4 separate regions of the Homo sapiens genome follow, and all the other regions are linked to region 1. The links come from fine-mapping of genetic effects on gene expression. A gene starts in region 1. Each other region holds a variant in brackets. All regions are shown on one strand. Distances are between the middles of the regions.

Region 1 (5,150 bases):
TGGTGGGCGGGACACTACATCATTCCCCTACGGAATCCCTAGGGGGCTCAGCATCCTTTCTGTCTCTTCAATTCAGATAACAGTAATAAGATTTTCCAGCAGGGTTATAATCACACCACCACCACCACCATCTCCAAAAAGCCATAAAACAATAAATTCATTACTGAAGCATCTCAGTGAATGGAGATGAAAACTGTGCAACAGCCCAGCACGGGATAGCTCTCCCAATCTCTGTTAGACAAGCACTGGCTAAAATATAAGAACTGGATCAATCTCCTCACATAAAATCAACTGTCTTACAAACCCAAGGGGGAAAAAAATCACACTTGTTAGGCATCATTAAGAAAAGATTATCAGATTATATACATCAGTAATAAAATTCCGAGCCACAGGGCGAACAGGGACCTGCAGGCTGGGGACAGAGCAGCCAAAATCCAGCCTCCCTGTGATTCCCGACCTCTTCTCCAACTCTGTGCAAAGCCCGAGGAGGTGAGACTCTCTTCGCTAAGGCGAGCTTCGGCTATGTCCTAGTGATGGACAGTTCCTCTCTGCCAGGCCCCTGCAGCCTTGAGACCACATTCCCCAGAGATCCGGCAACGTTTCCCCATCCCAGGCAGCTGGGCATTCTCCTCTCCCGGAAGGAAGACGGAATCCCACCCCGATCATGCGTGAGCTGCGGCGAAGAGAAGCCGCTGGTCCCGAGGCGAGGGGCCTCGAGTCCGCAGATTCCCCTCAACATTTCTGGGAGTAAAGTTGGGCTTAGCTGGGCTCCTGGCAAATAAAGAGGAGCCTGGAAAGACAGCCATGCTCAGGCCCCCGTGAGGCCACTTCGGACCCCTCCACGCTGTGCTGGGCTGCATCTGCCTTAATTCCCCGTCTGTTGCTTCTCCAGGCTCTGAGCCCCCTCCACAAAAGGGGGATGCGAAACTCAAAGGAGTTAGGATGTCAACCCTGCAAACCGCAGAAACTAAACCGACACCAACCTGCCCAAGAAGGCAGCGAAGGTGGTTGAGGACGACACCCCACCCCCCACCCCCCACCAGGCAGGGGTCGCGGGAGATGGCGGGCGCCTTTCTGGTGGCTCCACGTCCTCCTTACTCCCGAAGTCCCGGCGGCCCCGAGTCTGCCCCAACTCCAGCATCCGTTCTCCCCGAGCTGCGGCGGGGAAAACAAGGTAGGGGGCAGGGGCAGGCCCAGAGGGGTCTCGCCCCCGCCCTTGGGCCGGCCGAGGGGCTCCCTGGAGTCAGAGGAGGAACAATAGCGGACCCCGCGTCCTGGGAGCCACCCGGAGTCTCCCGCTCGCACCTCCCTCCCCACCTCCTCCAAGTTCAGCCGGGAGGCGGATTGGGCTCAGCAGCACCGACGCGGGGGCAGCGAGGCGCCGCGCGGGGCGAAACAGGTGGGACCCGGCGCAGACTCCAGGGTGCATCTCCGGGTCTGCTCATTCATTCCCACCCGCGCTCCCTCCGCCGCGGCCCCTGCCCCGCGCCCCGCCCCAGCCGGCCTGCGAGTCGCGGAGGACCCGGGAAGAACCCTTCTCCTAACTTGGCCGGGTCTTCCCGCTCTACCCTCATCTCCACCTTCCTCTCCTTCCTCTTGTCCCCAGATCTGCTCTCCGCAGACAGTGGGCTGCCGGCGGTGGACCAGGGAGAGGTGGCGGGACCCCGGCTGCAGCCCGCTCAGCCGCTCCGCCCGGGCGCCGTCCCCAGCGCCTCCCGCGCCCGAGCTCCAGACACAAAGGCGGGGACACGAGCCCGGGACCCCGCGCCGGGAGCCTCCCAACTCCGTGCCGCGCACTCACCCCATCGAGGCGGCGGCGGCGCTCCCCGGACCCAGCTGGCTGCTCCACCCCGCCCGCCGCTTCCCCAGGAAAACGCGGCCGCCGGGCTCGCTTCCTGCTCGGCTTCCTGCGCCGCAGTCCCTCCTCCTCCCCCGCTGCGGGGGTCAGTGGGCGCCGAGCTCCCGGGCTAGGCCGGCGGGGCGGGGGCAGCGGCAGCACCACCACGTGGCCGCCGGGCGCCGGCCCCCGCCGACCTGGATCCAGTGGGAGCGGGAAGGGAGGCGCTAACCATTCCCCTCCCATTCCACCCCTCGCGGCCCCAAATTCCGCGAGTCAGGTGACCCGGCCCCGGGCTCTGGCCGGGACCTGCGGGGGGTGCTCTCCGCCCTCCAGCCCCCGGCGCATCTCCCCGGCCCGCGCGTCCCGGCTGTTCGTGGCTTGCTTTTAGTCTCCAGGGATCGTGGGACCCTTCTCCGCGGATCTGTTTCATCCTCTTAACCTGAAGTTAGTGGAAGCCCCCCACGCTCTGACCCCTGGGTTTAGGACGGATGAGATCCCAGATACTGTTTATTTCTGATTAACTTCCAAAGTCGTTTGTGGTAGTGGCGAGTGTTTCAAAGTCACGGATCCAAGCCCCTTCTGACCAGAATCTAAAAGGTTGTTTTCCAAAATCATTGAACAGAAAGTAAAGTAGAATGTGCTCACGTTCTCCGGACTGAACCAATTGGTTGAAGTGACTGTTTTCTAGCACTCATTGGGTGGCAAGGCAAGACTACCACCGTTCAGTGTTGTTCTGCTCAGGAGTTAGAAAGGAGAAACCTACAGCCTGAACTGACAGGCGAGATTGCGCATGGGAACGCCTTCAAAATAGTGTGTGAGAAGCCACGGGGTACAGGCTCACTGCCCCAGGTCCCCGACAGCTTCTCTCCCTATCCCAGCCCACTAAGGCCCGACCTTTCAATTACGATGGACTCCACCATTAATTCCAAGGATTTCAAAGCTCTCTATCTACCCACTCATCTAATTTGGGCTGGCTTTTCCATGCATTCTAGTCATGCTAACCAGCTGTGACTTCAGTTCTGTTCACCTAAGCTCCTCCCTTCTCCTCGTTAGCTCTGCCTCCTTTGCTCAGGGAAGAAAGCTTTCTAGAATAAATAACGTATTGAGTTCTTTCTGGGATCTACTGTAAGTCAATTGAACTTAAGAGGGAAAAAAGGTCGATTCCAACAAAATTGAAATTCACCCTAACAGCTCAGTTTATAACGTGTCAGCTACATACTAATATTTATATGGCAGATATTACCTGTTCCCTCCCCCCGCCCCATCCCCCTTTCCTTCCTCCCTCTCCCTACTAGGGAAGAGCCTATCTCCCCTTTAACAGTTGAACTTGACAAACAAGCATCAAAAGCCTTGTAACTAGGTGCAGGGTCTTCACTTCCTACAGCAAAAGTTCCTTAGCCAAGTGAGGAACAGCTAAAGCAAGATGTACACTCCTCTTCCTGTCCTTTATCCCTCTCAAACAAAGTCACACTGTAAAAGAAACATGAACTGACCAACATTCTTTTGGTTTAATGCTGGCAATTTCTACAATAGTGTTTCATCGTGATTCTTGTTAATGACATATTGTAGGGTATTTAAGGGGAACATTACTGCCTGTGAGTTTTCTGCTCTATTTTTGCAGGTCAGTCTGGTTCAAGTAGGGGCAGCTGGGAGGATGGGATTTGGAGCATGGTACAGGTAGATGATGCTGTCTTGGAAATTTGACATGTGTGTATTCTGTAGGAACAGTTGACATTTTGAAGGAGTTAAAATATTAGACAACATTAAACAATGATTGTCTAAGGCAGGCACATCTGACTTTGATTCACAGAGGTCCTGTCCCTCTTCTTTTTTCTCTGTCCCAGCCACCTCCAAAGAGCCTACCAGCCTATCACCTCTTAGATTCCCATAGGTGGTTTGTATATGATTCTCCTTAGTTTACACTCCCACCCTCTAAAGTCAGCAAGTCTAACTCTGGATGAGGGATCGTTGTGAAAGTATTCTTATTTTTTTGGGCTGTGCCAAGATCCTTTTCCAGATCCCCACTTTTGAAACTCAAAGCAACTTTGTAGTCTGTAGACTGAGCATGGCAGCTAAGTTCTGCCAACTGCAGGGGGATTAGTGGGGAAGTAAGAGGTTCAATAGCATCTTCTTATTGGTTGTGTTGCCCAGGCGTTTTAGAAATGCTAATTGGGTTCATTGGATACATTGAATACCACCCTTTGATGAGAACTAGGCCCAGGTGAAAGGGGTTGAGTTAAAGAAGCAAAAATAAAATGACCAGCTAACCTGTGTAAAGTAGTAAAACCTTTTGGGAGGAGCAGTATGTTGCATTCCTTTATCCAAATATCAAGGTAACAGCAGTGTAATATGTAGTGCCATGAGCACCAAGAGCAAGGAGACTGGGTTTCCTGACCCATTTCTTTTGCTTACTTGCCATTTGACCTTCACCAAGGGTTTTAACTTCCCCTGTTCCCCCTTTCCTCATTAGTAGAAGGGAACATCAAAGTACATGACCTCCAAGATCTTTCTTTTCTTTTGTTTTCTTTTTTCTCTCTTTCCTTCTTTTCCTTTTTTTCCTTCCTTCCTTCCTTCCTTCCTTTCTCTCTCTCTCTCTGTCTTCTTTCTATCTTTGTCTCACTTTGGTGCCCAGGCAGGAGTGCAGTGGCACAATCATGGCTCACTGCAGCCTCAACCTCCAAGCTGAAGCTTTCCTCCCACCTCAGCCCCCAGGTCCCACCTCACTAGCTGGGACTACAGGTGTGGGCCACCACACCCGGTAATTTTTTTTTTTTTTTTTTTTTTGTACTTTTGGTAGAGACAGGGTTACGCCATGTTGCCCAGACTGGTCTCGAACTCCTGGGCTCAAGCGATCTGCCTGCCTCGGCCTCCCAAAGTGCTGGGATTACAGGCATGTGCCACCATACCCGATCTTTTTCAGTTCTGACATCCTAAACCTATTCTCTTAGTTTGTAGACCCTTCATAAGCAAAACTGCCCTGTCATTTCATGACGAAACATTGTTTTCTGATCACACTAGCAGGTCAGTCTTGTCAAAGCAATACAATTGTAAACTCCAAAGAGTGTTGCCATCCAGGACATCACAAATGAAATTCATTGATTGAGTGGGCTCAATTTTTATTCTTGAGATTAAATGATATCATCCCTTTTTCCTTGCTCATCCTTCATCAATACTGGTTCTTCTTAGATTATGAGTATCTTGATTGCCCAAGTCTGAGGAACCAAAGCTAAGACTTGTTGGGATAACAAGAAACTGCCCCTGCAGGAGGAAGGAGAGATAGATATCACACCACAGCCAAAAAGTCATTCTC
Region 2 (5,150 bases), 84 kb after region 1:
TCTTTTTTTTTTTTCTTTTTTTTGAGACAGAGTGTTGCTCTGTTGCCCAGGCTTCAGTGCAGTGGCGCGATCTCACTGCAACTTCCACCTCCTGAGTTTAAGCAATTCTCCTGCCTCAGCCTCCTGAGTAGCTGGGATTACAGACACACGCCACCATGCCCAGCTAATTTTTGAATTTTTAGTAGAGACGGGGTTTCACCATGTTGGCCAGGCTGGTCTTGAACTCCTGACCTCAGGTGATCCGCCCACCTTGGCCTCCCAAAGTTCTGGGATTACAGGCGTGAGCCACCACACCTGGCCTCAAACCACTTTTAAAATCCCAAAGCAGACACAAACTGAGGCACAACATCATCCTCGAAGTTGTCGTTGTCATCATCAGGAGATGCAGCCTTCCTGGGGCCCCATGACATATCCTTCTTTAGTGCAGTTGTTTAGTTAATTGACCCCCAAGTGTGCCCATCTAAGTAGTCAGTTAGTTGCATCAGGCAAAGAGTGCTGGATTTGAGACCTGGATCTGCTAGGTGACCTTGGAGAAATCAGTTAGTAACCTCTCTGAATCTCATTTTTCTCTAGTTTCAAAATAGACCTAGCACCACCTGTATCATGAAGTCATTGTGAGGACTGCCTGAGATGATCTGTAGGCAGGCATATTTTTGTTCTTTTGTATTGCTATAACAGAATACTGCAGACTGGATAATTTATAATACACAGAAATGTATTAGGCTCATGGTTCTGGAGTCTGGGAAGTCCAGGATCAAGGGGCTGCATTTGATGAGGCCCTTCTTGCTGTCATGCCACAGCCGAAGGGCAAAGAGAAGGCGAGAGGGAGCAAGAAGGGAAGGGGGCCAAGAGCATCCTTTTATCAGGAGCCCGCTTCTGCCCTAGTTAACCCACTCCCACAATAATGACCCCAATCCATTCAGGAGAGCGGAGCCCTCAGGACCTAATTACCTCTTGAAGGTCTCACCTCTCAACACCATTGCATTGGGGATTAAGTTTCCACACATGAACTTTGGGGGAACACATTCAAACCACAGCAAAGCACTTGCTAAGTTGTGTACAAATGTTATATGTTGTTTGTCCCAGTCAAGACCTAAAGAGCATTGCTCCTTGTAGAAAGAGGTTCAATGAATTATGCTCCAAGAAGTGGGGATGCCACAGGCTGCCAATATACAGGCTGTCTTTCTTCCCAATTTACCGGCACACAATAACCAGAAGAGCCACCTGTCACTTAGTATTTGCATGTACACATTTATATTGCCACTTACCTTGTTAAAGTCTGCACTATTCAACCTTTGGGGCAAAAGTTTTGGTTAATTGTTTCATATCCCTAGTACCTCCAATGGCTCCTGCAAAAAAAGGTACTCAGAAAATATAGGCAGCTGGTAACATTTATTGAGCACAAATTATGTGCCGGGAACTGTTCCAAGCACTCCACACTGATTAATATACATAATATTCACAACAAGACTTTGAAGTTGGGACTCTCTTTATCCCTATTTTGTAGATGGGGAGATAGAAGCAAAAGAGGAGTAAAACCTCACATAGGTGAGAGGCAGGGCTGAGTTGTGCACACAGATGCCGTGACTGAGAGCCCAGAGTCTAAACCAGTCTGCTCTATTGCATTTTCTTTTTTCTTTCTTTCTTTCGTTCTTTTTTTTTTTTTTTTTTTGAGGCAGAGTCTTGCTCTGTTGCCCAGGCTGGAGTGCAGTGGCATGATCTTGGCTTTCTGCAACCTCCACCTCCCAAATTCCAGCAATTCTCCTGCCCCAGCCTCCTGAGTAGCTGGGATTACAGGCACATGCCACCACGCCCAGCTAATTTTTGTATTTGAAGTAGAGACGGGGTTTCACCATGTTGGCCAGGCTGGTCTCAAACTCCTGACCTCAAGTGATTGGCCTGCCTCAGCCTCCTTCAGAGTGCTAGGATTACAGGCCTCAGCCACACTGCACCCAGCCTGCTCTATTGCTTTTTAAATGCATGTTTAGGATGAGCACTGGCAGGTAAGAAAGAAGAGAAGACTTCTGCAGCCGCCCAATTGTGCAGACACACCATTTCTTGTCTGTGGCGGGTTGAATAGTATACCTGAAAATTTACGTCTACCCAGAACCTCAGAATGGAAACAGACTCTATTTGGAAATAGGGTCTTTGACAATGTAATTGGTTAAGATGAGGTCACACTTGACCAATCTCGCATGTGTCCTTATAAGAAGGAAATTTGAACGTAGACACACAGGGGAGAAGGGCATGTGAAGACAAGGGCAGAGATTGGAATGAGGGATCTACAAGCCCAGGAATGCCATGGACAGCCAGCAAACCACCAGGCAGTGGAGAAAGGCATGCAGCAGATTCTCCTTCAGAGCCCCCAGAAGGAATCAACCTTGCTGACATCTTGGTTTGGGTCTCTGGCCTCTGGATCTGTAAGAAAATAAATTTCTGTTGTTTTGAGCCACCCAGTCTGCAATAGTTTGTAACGGCAGCCCTGGGAAATCAATACACCTTCTTTCTCTCTGTTCTCTGCTTTCCAGTGAAGTGAAGGGAAGTATTGCACAGATGACTCAAAAACATAAGAATCTGAGGCTTTAGGGGGGTTTAGCTTTGCATGAGCTCATTTCCTTTTTCTCTGATTAAACCTCATGGAAAACCAGCCCACTCAGATTAAGAAAGAGTGAGAGGGTCCCATGGGCCATTATCTCTTGGTAAAGTGAAATCAATCCCAGAAGGCAGACTGCTTGAAAAGCCCATCTTCATTAATCAACCAATAAGTCTGTGAAGTGGAAATGTGCACTTCCTTTTGCCTCTTTTTTGTGTGGAGAAGAAGGGAGAGCTAGAGAGGTCATCCCAGCCTAGGAATTCGAACTGGTCTATGAAAAAGA[G/A]AGAACTATAATTTCAAACGTCTGCTGTGATGCTTTGGGGTGGAGTCCTGGATCAAATGGCCTGGTCAGCAAAGTATTTCACTGACAGCACAGTTATGTGCTGAAGTTTAGGTTTAGGAAGAGGCTGGAGGTTGCTGAATTTTTTGGCATGACTGAGAATAAGAAATTCTGCTTAGATGTTGCCAAGGGGCAGGGAAGAAGGAGCACAGTGTGATGAGAGAGGCCCAGATGCTATTCAGAGAGGCTACCCTGAGATGTCCCTGGTTGGTGGGCTTGGCCATGGGTCTTTTAAGAAGAGGCACGGCTGATATTCCATTTAAAGTTGGCTATGTGAGACTATGATGTAACTCCCCACCCTGGTTGCATTAAACCTTCAGAAAAAGTTTTCTGAATATACACCCTTGTATTAATCATCCCATGGGGAAAAGAAGTGTCCTCAGAGACACACTGGGAGGAACCAGCAACTGTTAGCCTTTTTTACCATCTACCGCCCTTCCTCTCTTCCCACTGTTTGTGGGCTTGGAATTTAACTCTACTTTGAATAAATCCTAAAGGGTGCTGAAATCATCAAGCTATGGGATTTGAAACACCACTACCAGGCTGCTCAGACCTACGTCTTCCTTGTTCTGAGGGCCAACTACAGGAAAGGCATCCTGCTAGGTGCGGTAGCTCATGCCTGTAATTCTAGCACTTTGGGAGGCTGAGGTGGGAGAATCGCTTGAGCTCAGGAGTTTGAGGCCAGCCTGGGTAACACAGTGAAACACTGTCTCTACTAAAAATCAAAACATGAACTGAGGATGGTGTCACTTACTCGTGGTTCCAGCTACTCTGGATGCTGAGGTGAGAGGATCACTTGAGCCAGGGAGGTTGAGCCTGCAGGGAGCCATGATTGTGCCACTGCACTCCAGCCTGGGCGACGGAGCCAGACCCCATTTCAAAAAAAGGTAAAATAAAATAAAAAAGGAAAGGCATCCTATGAGGTGTACCAGGGACACAAAAGCTTGTAGGATCTAACCCCGTTGCTGTGGACTGAATGCTTATGTTCCACCAAAACTCATATCCTGAAGCCTCACGCACAATGTGATAGTAGTTGAAGTTGGGGCTTTCGTGGGGAGGTCAGTAGGTCATGACAGTGGAACCCTCATTAATGGGATTTCTGTCCTTATAAAAAGAGGCAGAAACATGGGATTTTCCTCTTTGCTCTCTGCCCTGTGAGGATACAACATGAAGACAGGTTTCTGCAAACTAAGAAGCGGGCTTTTACCTACGGTGACTCTGATGGTGCCTTGATCTTGGACTCTCCAGCTTCCAGAACTGTGAGAGATAAATATTTGTTGTTTAAGCCACCCAGACTTAAACAACAGATAGTCATTTGTTATGGCAACCTGACCTGACTAAGATACCTGGCCTCAAAGAGGTTCCAATACTGAAAGACAAAGGCAAGAGTGACTACAATTAGGACTGCCTTAACTGAAGAACAAACAGCAGTTTCACAGCTTCAGAGGAAGAAAAAGAGCACTTCTGGCCAGAGTGATCAAGGACCTGATGTGAGATATTTAAGGTCATCTTCCAACAGACAGAGTAGAGGTATACGGCATGTCTCTCTCTTGAGTACACCCACACTCCCTTTTATTGAGTGTGTACTTTTCCCTTTTCAATAAATCTCCATAACAAAAAGAATGGAAGTGTAAGGGTGTGTGTGTGTGTGGGCATGTGTGTGCACATGTGCATGCACGCACACACACACATACATCCCATCTTCCAGGCAGACCACAAAGGGCACTATTTACACAGGCTATAATGTGAACGGTGCTATCTGGAATTGCACTGTAGGTGGTTCTGCTTCCAGGCCTAGTTAATGGTTACTACCCAACAGGTGAGGATAAAGCTACCTATGGGTACCCATGCCTGACAGTTCTACTCCTCTCAGTAAGGCAGAAGGAGGAGGCAGCAGATCTTTTTGTTAGCAATGGGTCAAATGCAAGAAGATGAAATGTTGTAGGCATAAATTAAATGTCCCATACTTGGCCCAAAGAGCCAACTGAATAAACTCTACAAGAAGTAGGAGACTCAGTTAAGTAGCAGCACACATCAAAACTTGTCCGTGATAAGCTCAAACTGAATCAAGTGAAGTGACGGGGGGAGGTGGAGCAGGAGATTAAAAAATGTGGTGCCTTAAAAGCCAGTGTGGGCCAGGTGTGGTGGCTTATGCCTCTAACCCCAGCACTTTGGGAGGCTGAGGCGGGTGGGTCACTTGAGGCCAGGAGTTTAAGA
Region 3 (5,150 bases), 120 kb after region 1:
AAAGAGTTTTGACCTAACCAACTCCATCTTGCTTTTAACCTTCAAGCTGCCCTTGTTTATTCCTGGGCGTAGGCAGAGCTAACTTTGGGAGGAATTTAGTTTATAGTTTAACTTTGAAACAAAGATAACAGCCTGCCCCAAAACAAAACCCTTCCTTGCCTGGGGACAAGACCTCCTTTGTGAAACTAACAAATTATCCACAAGATTAGAAATTATGGTTCAGGAGTCAAGCAGCCAGATGCCACAAGATCAGTAACCTCCTAAGTTGTTCCTATAGACAACATTACTATTGTCAAACCTAAGATTGGTGTTTGAGGTATTTTTCCCAGTCTGGTAAACAGGCTCATTTGGTCTTGTGGCCCCCCACCCAGAAACTCACTCAATGCCAGAGGACAGCTTCAACTCCCTATGATTTTATCCCAGACCCAACCAATCAGCTGTCTCCCTTCCCTTGCCCCCTGCCCACCAAACTATCTTTAAAAACCTCTGGCCTCTGGGGAGGCTGATTTGAGTAATAATAAAACCTGTCACCTGTTTAGCCAGCTCTTCCTCTATTGCAACCCCCCGTGTCTTGATAAATTGGCTTTACCTGGGCAGCAGGCAAGAAGAACCCATGGGGTGGTTACACAACTGGGAGACTCATGAGTTACAAGGTGGATGCCTCATCTTAACATAAGTGAGGCAGGCGAATGGCTCTTTGTCTCCTAGCTCCATGGGAAGATTGGCCATTAATTTGGAGAATTGTTCTTTCTCTTAACTCTCCCATTTAAGCAACCTGGAATATCTCACATATATTCTTTCTGCTGGGAAGGAGGGTCTTTGTGGTATGCCTGTATGTGTAGTGTTAGGTTTGTCCCCCAGTGAAAACACCAATCTATAGTTTACGCATCATGGAGTCTTGTACATCTGTGGTACCAAATCGTCCACCCGGTGTCCCTGCCCAAGGGCTGCCCCATTTTGAGACCACGAGGGCTGTCTGTGAATGCAGTGGTGATTCTCTTTCCCCCTTACCTCCTAGGATCCTGTGTCTACAGCATTAGCACCACCACCCTGCTAAGAGTTTCTCTTACCTCATTCTTCTTTTCATTTTGGAAAAAAGAAATGAATTTTGCTGCATCATGGTCATCACTAATGCTTATTAAGCACTTAACTCTGCACCAGACATTGTTTCATGTGTTTTACATATACAGTATTAACCTGCTTAATTTTCCTAATAACCTTTTGGGGGAGGTACTGCCATCACCCTCACTTACCCAGGAGGAAACAGCACAGAGAGGTTAAGTAACGGGCTTAAATGGAGAAGTGGCAAAGTGGGCCTGACCCAGAAAGCCTGTGGTATTACCACCACCATATACACCGGGTACATGTTAGAAGTTCTTTTGGAAAGCAGTTATTTGAATTGCATACCTTTTTCTAGCCATTGAAGCAACCCCTATTAACCCTTTCAACACGCTAGAAAGAGAGCCTAACGACTTTTATAAAGCAATGAAATAGTCCATAAGTAGTAATCTAGAACAGAACTAATATATATCCCACTGGTTCTTTGAGGAGTGGGAGTGGAGGAGGGAAATAAATATATTTTGAGTTAAAATTCAGCACGCCAGTGACATTGTTTTCTGTTCTTGCAACGTAGGGGTAAATTCTGTTCCTGCAATGTGGTGTTAAATGTGACCTCCTCTGGTCCCTCCTGCTCTTGTGGGGAAAGAATTTCCCTGGTTTCTGTTCCATGCATGGCAGTGGGGGCAGGTCCAGAAACAAAAGGTGTCATTTGAGAAGTGGGTGGTCGGGCAGGGAGTTGGCAGTGGACAGGGGCAGCAATTGCTCCAAGGTGAAAAAAGTGCTTGTTCCTACTTTGGGGTCTGCATACGTTTATTTTCTGTTTTTACGTTGCAACTTCTATAAGCAATCAAGTTATAGCATATAAAAGCTTTTCCTTTTCTTTCTCTCTCTCTCTCTTTTTTTTTTTTTTTTTTTTTAGTTAACAGAAGAAAATTTTGTTTAGCTTCATATAAACAGAATTAATCTGTGTTATGGAACACTTTAGAAGGTATAGATCATGCCATCCTCCTTTCTGTCCCTTTGGTCTCTGCCACAGTTCACTGCATTAACTTTATAACCCATTTTTTCCACTCCCTCTCCAGATCATCCTCTATGCTGTTTGTTGTTGTGTTGTATTATTGGTCTAAAA[AT/T]ATGAGGAGTCTGAGTGTTTCCCTCATACACAAACCCCTGCATTATTGTATTAGTCCATTCTCACGTTGCTGATAAAGACATATCCAAGAATGGGTAATTTATAAACAAAAAGAGGTTTAGTGAACTCACAGTTCCATATGGCTGGAGACGCCTCACAATCATGATGGAAGGCGAAAGTTACGTCTTACACAGGGCAGGCAAGAGCAAATGAGAGCCAAGCAAAAGGGGAAACCTCTTATAAAACCATCAGATCTTGTGAGACTTATTCACTACCATGAAAACACTATGTGGGAAACTGCCTCCATGATTCAGTCATATCCCACTGGGTCCCCCCCACAACACATGGGAATTATGGGAGCTACATTTCAAGATGAGATTGGGCAGGGACGCAGCCAAACCATATCAATTATCTTCTCCTTGTCTGGCAAACAAACTGGAAACCCAGTCCATCTTTGCAGCTGTAAAGGTCTCATCCTGCATCCTTAGGTCTTTTCCTCACTTCCCTGCCCCTCAAAATCCTTCTCTTTCTTTCAAGACTTCTCTCATACGTTACCACTACAATAAAGCCTCAGCCACTGCCCACAAATGTAATTAACTTCCTCCTCCTAGCTCCTTCCATCTGGTCAAAGCAGCATCCTACATGTCTCCAGGATGTTTTAGAGACCTTGTTGAATTCTTCCAGTTACAATTTCAAGTTCATTCTGTGTATAGTTTTTGAGCACCTGGACCCAGGTATATGATGAAAAGAAAATAATCTCCTTCCTTATTACTTTCCTCCTGGTGCTTACTCAGCACTTCCTTCCTATCCTTTACGGATGCCATTTCAAAAATGTCAAACTGCTGCCCAGCCACATTCTAGTATGTGTAGCTGGACATGTCACAATATGATTAGATGTTTTCTGATGATTTTAAGTTCTTCTGAGGCATTTAATTATGACCCCATGGATACAGGTTCAAATTGAGGGTAGGCTGACTTTTTTTCCCTGGAACTGAGAACAAAAATCTAGTGGGTTTTTTGGGTCTGCTTTTGTTTTAGAAAACAATCTCAAAAATGTTACAAATTTGTAAAAAAACAAAAAACCAAACACAAACAAAAAATCTCAAACAAACAAAAAACCAAAGCAAAACACTGCAATTACCAAAACCCATTCTCTTTTCCTTGAAGCCAAGACACATAGATGTAATTGAAGAGTGTATTTTGTTTTGCTGGGTCTAGTTGACCAGCAGCATCCCTAGGGTTCATCAAAATTTGCTAGGTAATTCCCACATCACCCCCCCAAAAATTTCCTTGTTTTTTAAAATAGCTATACTTCACATTGCTTTCTTGTAATACTAGCTTTGTGTAATTGCTTTCTTAGGAGGAATGAGGGTGAAAGCTAGTATATATTGTTCATAAGAAACGATGGAAGGAAGCAAAATGACTGGTCCAGAAGGTTTCTGATTATGTCATCAGGATAAAAATTAAATGGTATCATTTGAGTGTTTTTACATGAGTCATTTATATTAAAAATTTTTAAAAATATTTTCACTGTAGAAAAAATAAAAAGAAAACCAGTTCTTACCCTTCCAAAACAAAACCAATATAGAGATAAATAGAAGCTGTAGGAGTGAAAAAACACTGTTACTGTCCTCTTACCAATGGAAGGAGCAGCAGGTCTCCCAGTCTTCATTCTGACATTGATAGAGGCAGACAAATGCCTAGGCAGATAGGGGTGGGCCCATGGCAAAACCCCACCTTCAAGCCGAAGACAGTTTAAAGCCTGAAAGCCAAGCTGCAAGTTAAATCCTCTGACCAGATTGGGAACTTGTCTTCCCATTTGGCATGTTTTCCTCTGATTGGTCCCCACCCTTCACCTATTTTACATATACCTACTCTTTCCTAACTGGTTTTTGTACACTTTCTTGCTCACCTTTAAGTGGTGTCTTTGCTTTAAACTTTTTTGCATACTCACAGACCAATCAGCATGCACTCCCCATTCTGAGTCCATAAAAGGCTCCAGACCCAGCCACATGGGGGAGCCATCACCCTGTCCCCTCTCCACTGAAAGCTGTTTTCATCACTCAATAAAATTATTCTCCACCCTCCTCACCCTCCAATGTCCTGTGCATCCTCATTCTTCTTGGGCACAGTACAAGAGCTCGGGAACAGCAGAACGCAGGTATAAGCTATAACACAGGTGTGCTGGGGTATGTCAGGATGGCTGAGTGAGGCCCCAGTGGGGCGTTGTCAGTCAGGGGTCCCTGGCTTGCAAAGTGACATTGCAGGGACCCCTGGCTGGCAATGCCCCACTGGGGCAAGAATGAAAAAAATGGTGTTCATTTAGTCAGCCTATTTTAGGTGGCATCCTTAAACATCAGCCATCTAAAATAGGCTGACTTTATCTGGATCAATCTATAACTGATTACTTCTTTAGTAGCTGTTATTTAGCTCAACAAGAATAGAACAGGCTCAATGAGATGTCTTCAGGCTAATTTATAAGCCCTGCTGCCGTTAAATAAAAACCTTGTAGTAAAAAACATACCTTACTAAATGTACCATCTTAACTATTTTTAAGTGTACAATTAATTTGTTATGTATTCACACTGTTGTGCAAAAGATCTCTAGGATTTTTTTCATCTTGCAATACTGAAACTCTGTGCCCACTAAAAAACACGAATTTCCCCTTTCTCCTTTCCCCAGCTCTTGGTAACCACTTTTCTATATGATTTAGATTAAATTCGATACTTCATATATGTGGAATCGTACAGTATTTGTCCTTCTGTGACCGGCTTATTTTGCTTAGCATAATATCCTCTAGGTTGCAGCATGTGACAAAATTTCCCTTTATTTAAAAGCTGTGTAATATTCCATCATATGTACACACCACATTTTCTTTATCCATTTATCTGTTGATGGACATTCAGGTTTCTCTTGCCTCTTGGCTGTTATGAGTGCATTGAACATGGGTGTGCAAATATTT
Region 4 (5,150 bases), 33 kb after region 1:
AATTAAGGTACCATTGATTGGCTGGTTTATTTATCACCAAAAAAGAAAAACACCACTCTGCCCATTAAACTGTGATATAATGCTTTAAGAACAGTCCTGCTCGTGCATGAAATTAGTGCCACCAGCCTTTGCTCATTTGATACTTCCCTGTGTATATTCCTCTGGGTTTGGCAACTTTCCTGCCTTTAGCTGTGTTGCTTAGTGTGTGATAGACAATTCTTTTTTTTGGTATCTTAGTAACAAAATATAACACAGCTTCACATACTTGTGGGTATCTTCTCTTCTTGATTCTATTAAAATACTTGTGACAAATACACAACTCTGGTCATTCCTCCATAAATATCTGCTTTGTTAATATCCAATGTAAGCTCCTTTATTCCTATACTTTTCTGTGTAGACTTTTTTTTTTTGCTGTAACACCAAACTATATCTAATGTTTTTGAAGATATTTTAAATGGCGATTAAACTCCACTTGCGTAGTACTAATGTTGCAAATAACTCAAATGAATTGATGACAAAATGACCGAATTTACCTGTGTGCAGGTAATGACAATCAGAGCTATGGCAAGTCTCCATCAATTATGGGATGAATCCCAGTTTTAGAGATGTTACAATGTGGAAAAGAAAGTGCATCTCATAATCGGTGAAATATGGTAATCTCTGCTATGGAAAATACCTTGGCTCAGCTATCACCTCCTCCAGGGAGCCTGTCCTAACAATCTTCCAGCACTCCCTCTGAGTTGGGCTCAGTCCCACACCTTGTGTTCCTGTAGCTTCCTGTGTATATCTGTATCTTCCCACTTAGCATGTGGTGGCCTAATTACCTGTTTACCTGAGGAATGTATCTTGGAGAACTCTTTGGGTTCACGGTGCCTGGAACTGTGCCTGGCACATCATATCGGTCCTCAGTAAATGCTTGCTTAATGATTGACTTGTGAATCCTATGAGAGATGGATGATCTTTCGCTTTCAGACCAGCAGTGTGCACACTTCTGAGCAGGACAACCCCTGTCTGTCCAGGGCCTCTTCTGCAGCCAGCCACTCTCAGACCATGCCTACCAATGATATTAAAACACAGCAGTCCACTGTTCCTCTTATTTATACTCTCCCCCATAATCTTCACCTTAGTTCAGGCTGCTATAACAAAAATACCATAGAACCAGTGGCTTAAACAACAACAAAAAAATATTTTTCACAGTTTTGGAGGCTAGAAAGTCCAACATCAAGGTACTGGCCAATTTGGATCCTGGTGAGGGCTCTCTTCCTGGTTTGCAGAGGGCTGCCTTCTTGCTGTTTCCTCATGTGGCAGAGAAACAGGTGATTTCTTTCATATCTCTTATTTAAAAAAAAATTGGCCAGCACGGTGGCTCACGCTTGCAATCCCAGCACTTTGGGAGGCTGAGGTGGGCGGATCATGAGGTCAAGAGATCAAGACCATCCTGGCCAACATGGTGAAGCCCCGTCTCTACTAAAAATACAAAAATTAGCTGGGCATGGTGGCAGGCTCCTGTAATCCCAGCTACTCAGGAGGCTGAGTCAGTAGAATCGCTTGAACCCAGGAGGCGGAGGTTGCAGTGAGCCGAGGTTGTGCCACTGCACTCCAGCCTGGCGATAGAGCAAGACTCCATCTCAAAAAAAATAACAAATAAATAAAATAAAAATAAATAAATAAATAATTAAAAAATTGATTATATATTAGTTGTACGTATTCATATCTCCTCTTTTTGAGACAGGGTCTCACTCTGTCACCCAGCTGGAGTGCAGTGGTGTGATCAGGGCTCACTGCAGCCTCAACCTCCCAGGCTCAAGTGATCCTCCCACCTTAGCTTCCCAAGTAGCTGGGACCACAGGCACATGCTACCACACTCAGCTAACTTAAAAATTTTTTTTTTTTTTTTTTGAGACAGAGTCTTGCTCTGCTGCCAGG[C/A]TGGAGTGCAGTGGCGCTATCTTGGCTCACTGCAACCTCTGACACCCTGGTTCAAGCAATTCTCCTGCCTCAGCCTCCTGAGTAGCTGGGATTACAAGCATGTACCACCACACCCAGCTAATTTTTGTATTTTTAGTAGAGATGGGGTTTCACCATGTTGGCCAGGATGGTCTCGATCTCCTGACCTTGTGATCCACGCACCTCAGCCTCCCGAAGTGCTGGGATTACAGGTATGAGCCACCACACCTGGCCAAAAAAATTTTTTTATGGAGAGGAGGGTCTCACTATATTTGCTCAGGCTGGTCTTCAAATCCTGGGCTTAAGTGATCCTCCCACCTCAGCCTCCCGAAGTGCTGGGATTCCAGGTATGAGTCACTGCAGCCGGCCTCATGTCTCTTCTTATAAGGGAACTAATCCCATCATGAGGGCTCATCCTTCACAACCTAATTACCTCCCAAAGGCCCCACCTCTTAATAGTATCACACTGGGAAATAAAGCTTCAATTTATCGACTTTGTGGAGATACAAACATTCAGTCCACAGCACCCATGATGTGAGAAATCAAGTCAAATTAAAATTATAATGGGTAATAATGGCATTGCGATGTACTCCTCCCAGATAGCTCATGACATTTTAGGAGGAAGTTCGAATGAGCTAACTCACAGAAAAGAGCCTTGGGAAGAACTGCAGGCTGCTGTGAGAAAATCTGGAGCCAGCATGCTCTTTTCAAGGTCTACCACTTAAATGGTTGTCTGGGTTCACTTTATGCTCTCATTTGGGGCCACGATGTACCAAGTTAAGTTGTGAGAAAAGCCTGGATCATTTTGGGGCTTCCAATCTTCCCCTTTGGGCTCATTTCTTCCATTTTACATGCTTGGGTTGGGCATGGGACCAGCATCCTGAAAATGCAGGTGGGCTTCCCCAACTTGTGGGGGAGGCCCGAGAGGAAAGCAAGTTTCTCATTCTCAAAACCCAACTCAAGTCACCATGATACCTTTCATGTTTATGGTTTCCTTACATGAGGAAACTACTCAATCTCTTCCAGATCTTAAGTCTTACTTTCCTTCATGAGGTTATCTCATTTCCCTCTATTTATTTTCAAAATCTCCAAAAATAAAAGTTACTTCTAATATTCTCTTTTCTCACAACACTCTTCCTCCACACATTGCTTTAACTTCCATGGTCTAACCTAAAATAGAAAAGTTAAAGAAGGAAATACTAGTTGTCGGTATCAATTAAACAAACAGCAATTTAAAAAATTACAATAAAGATTTTCTGGTTTTGGTGACTTGCACCCTAAAATATTGGAAGGAATATCAAAGGATTGGAAAGTGGGGCTCAGTCCAACTGCTGGTGTCTGGGATTTAATGCTCAGACAGAGGTGGGTGGGGGAACCTCTTCCCTGCTTTGCAAAGGCAGAAATAATTCTCTGGTAACTCTTCTACAGGGAAGCTCTGTGGATAAGAAACCTCAAGAATGAAACACTTAATTATAACCAAACATGGAGCAAACAAAGAAACAAGAACTGAGTTGGGCTGTTTTATATGAATCCTGCCTACGAAAGGAGATTGCTCCTTCCAAGTTTTGTAAGAGATCAGTGACAAGCTGGAATTTTTCATTTCTGGGCTCAGTGAGAAGTTACATTTACAGAACCAACTTCATTTATGTTTTAAAAGCAAATAAGTTTAGGCTTACCACCCTGGTGAGCTCTGAGGCTGTTGAATATTCTGGGAACTTTCATATTGATAGAATATCATGACTGGGGGAAAATATTACAGTCATTTTCCTAACTCTAATAGTTTCCATCCCTAACCTCAAAAAGGAAGGTGAAAAATGATGAATGGGTGTGATGAGGATGTTGTTCCTGAGCCTTTGTTAGCAGTGCTGTGAGTTGTGCCAACGGCAGGGACCCAGGGAAGGGTTGGTGCTCAGTCTCCTCATTCTTTAACCTTGAACTCCTTTGTGTGACCACTTGTGTATATCAGGACTTGATACAACCTGCAGATGTGGAAAAGGGCATTCTTTTATTTTGTATAAGTCCCCTAGTTCATATGAGAAAGTAATGTTTCCTTGGCACTATGATTATAATTCTGATATTTATCAGGTGTCTAGTAGGAGCCAGGCACTTTACAACTATTATTTATAATCCTTATGACTCCCATTACACAGATGTGGAAACTGAGGCTGAAAGAATTCGAATGACTTGACCAAAACAATAGAGCTAGAATACGGCTGAGCCAGACTTTGGGCAAATTCCTCTCTGACTCCAAAACTTACATTCTTTTCTCATGCTATGTTGTCCAGGAAACTTGCCAGCCTACAGTGAAATAAGCTTTAGGTAAAGTATATTGAAAATACAGAAATGAGGCTGGGTGCAGTGGCTTATGCCTGTAATCCCAGCACTTTGGAAGGCCGAGGTGGGCGGATCACTTCAGGTCAGAAGTTTGAGACCAGCCTGGCCAACATGGTGAAACCTTGTCTCTACTAAAATTACAAAAATCAGCCGGGCATGGTGACAGGTGCCTGTAATTTCAGCTACTCTGGAGGCTGAGGCAGGAGAATCACTTGAACCTAGAAGGCAGACATTGCAGCGAACTGAGATGGTGCCACTGCACTCCAGCCTGAGCGACAGAGTAAGACTCTGTCTCAAAAAAACAAAACAAAACAAAACAAAACAAAAAAAACAGAAATGAGGCCAGGTGCAGTGGCTTATGCCTGTAATCCCAGTACTTTAGGAGGCAGAGGCAGGAAGATCACTTGAGGCCAGGAGTTCAAGACCTGCTTGGGCAACAAAGCAAACCCTTGTCTCTACAAAATAAAAAATAAAAAGAAATGAATGAGAATTTTAGAATTCTATCTGACAAATCTTCCCACAGTGTCTCTGGGTAGTCTACAAACCAGTAAAAATAAATTAAAGTTAATTACAAAGGAAAAATGAAGGTAATGTTAGAGACGCAGTCACTTCCGGGTGGATTCAAATTATCTGCATTTCTAGATCCTGCCATTGTTCACCCCCACTCACGCCCTCCACCCCAAGACACTGTGCAGAGGCCCCTCATGTTGGTTCTGATCTACACGTTGACCTCAGAACCTGACACTGAGGATCTCCAGCCTGGGGTTTCCACCATGCTCCACTCCCTGGGTTTCTAGAATTTTTTGCGCTGGAAAAATCCTGAAACTGTAGCCACACTTTGTCCATTATTCCCATTTACGGCTTTTCTTAGC

Direction of the effects. Alleles are on the strand shown, and positions count from the first base shown. SD is a standard deviation of normalised expression in the study named.
In carriers of allele A in region 2, the expression in macrophages of the gene that starts at base 1,949 in region 1 tends to be lower than with G alone (moderate effect, 0.51 SD a copy in Nedelec 2016).
In carriers of allele T in region 3, the expression in fibroblasts of the gene that starts at base 1,949 in region 1 tends to be higher than with AT alone (small effect, 0.31 SD a copy in GTEx).
As copies of C replace A in region 4, the expression in esophagus mucosa of the gene that starts at base 1,949 in region 1 goes up (small effect, 0.34 SD a copy in GTEx).

What was found. PIP is the estimated chance that this variant, and not a neighbour inherited with it, causes the effect.
Region 2: its variant is the best candidate, but not a certain one, in a credible set for the expression of RAI14 in macrophages (Nedelec 2016, PIP 0.53).
Region 3: its variant is the best candidate, but not a certain one, in a credible set for the expression of RAI14 in fibroblasts (GTEx, PIP 0.51).
Region 4: its variant is the best candidate, but not a certain one, in a credible set for the expression of RAI14 in esophagus mucosa (GTEx, PIP 0.81).

What each region holds. Positions count from the first base shown.
Region 1 is chr5:34,653,127-34,658,276 of GRCh38, reverse strand. It overlaps RAI14 (retinoic acid induced 14), which reads right to left and starts at 1,949. Exons shown (of 18, transcript NM_015577.3): 1 at 1,802-1,949. RAI14-DT (RAI14 divergent transcript) reads left to right here and starts at 2,104. Exons shown (of 3, transcript NR_183264.1): 1 at 2,104-2,284. RefSeq lists a silencer at 1,942-1,991.
Region 2 is chr5:34,568,963-34,574,112 of GRCh38, reverse strand. No RefSeq gene overlaps it. Among named protein-coding and RNA genes, the nearest start is that of RAI14-DT, 85 kb to the left of the region's middle. The variant G/A (reference allele first, on the strand shown) is at 2,877.
Region 3 is chr5:34,537,228-34,542,377 of GRCh38, reverse strand. No RefSeq gene overlaps it. Among named protein-coding and RNA genes, the nearest start is that of RAI14-DT, 120 kb to the left of the region's middle. The variant AT/T (reference allele first, on the strand shown) is at 2,189.
Region 4 is chr5:34,620,499-34,625,648 of GRCh38, reverse strand. No RefSeq gene overlaps it. Among named protein-coding and RNA genes, the nearest start is that of RAI14-DT, 33 kb to the left of the region's middle. RefSeq lists a silencer at 4,344-4,704 and an enhancer at 5,111-5,150. The variant C/A (reference allele first, on the strand shown) is at 1,927.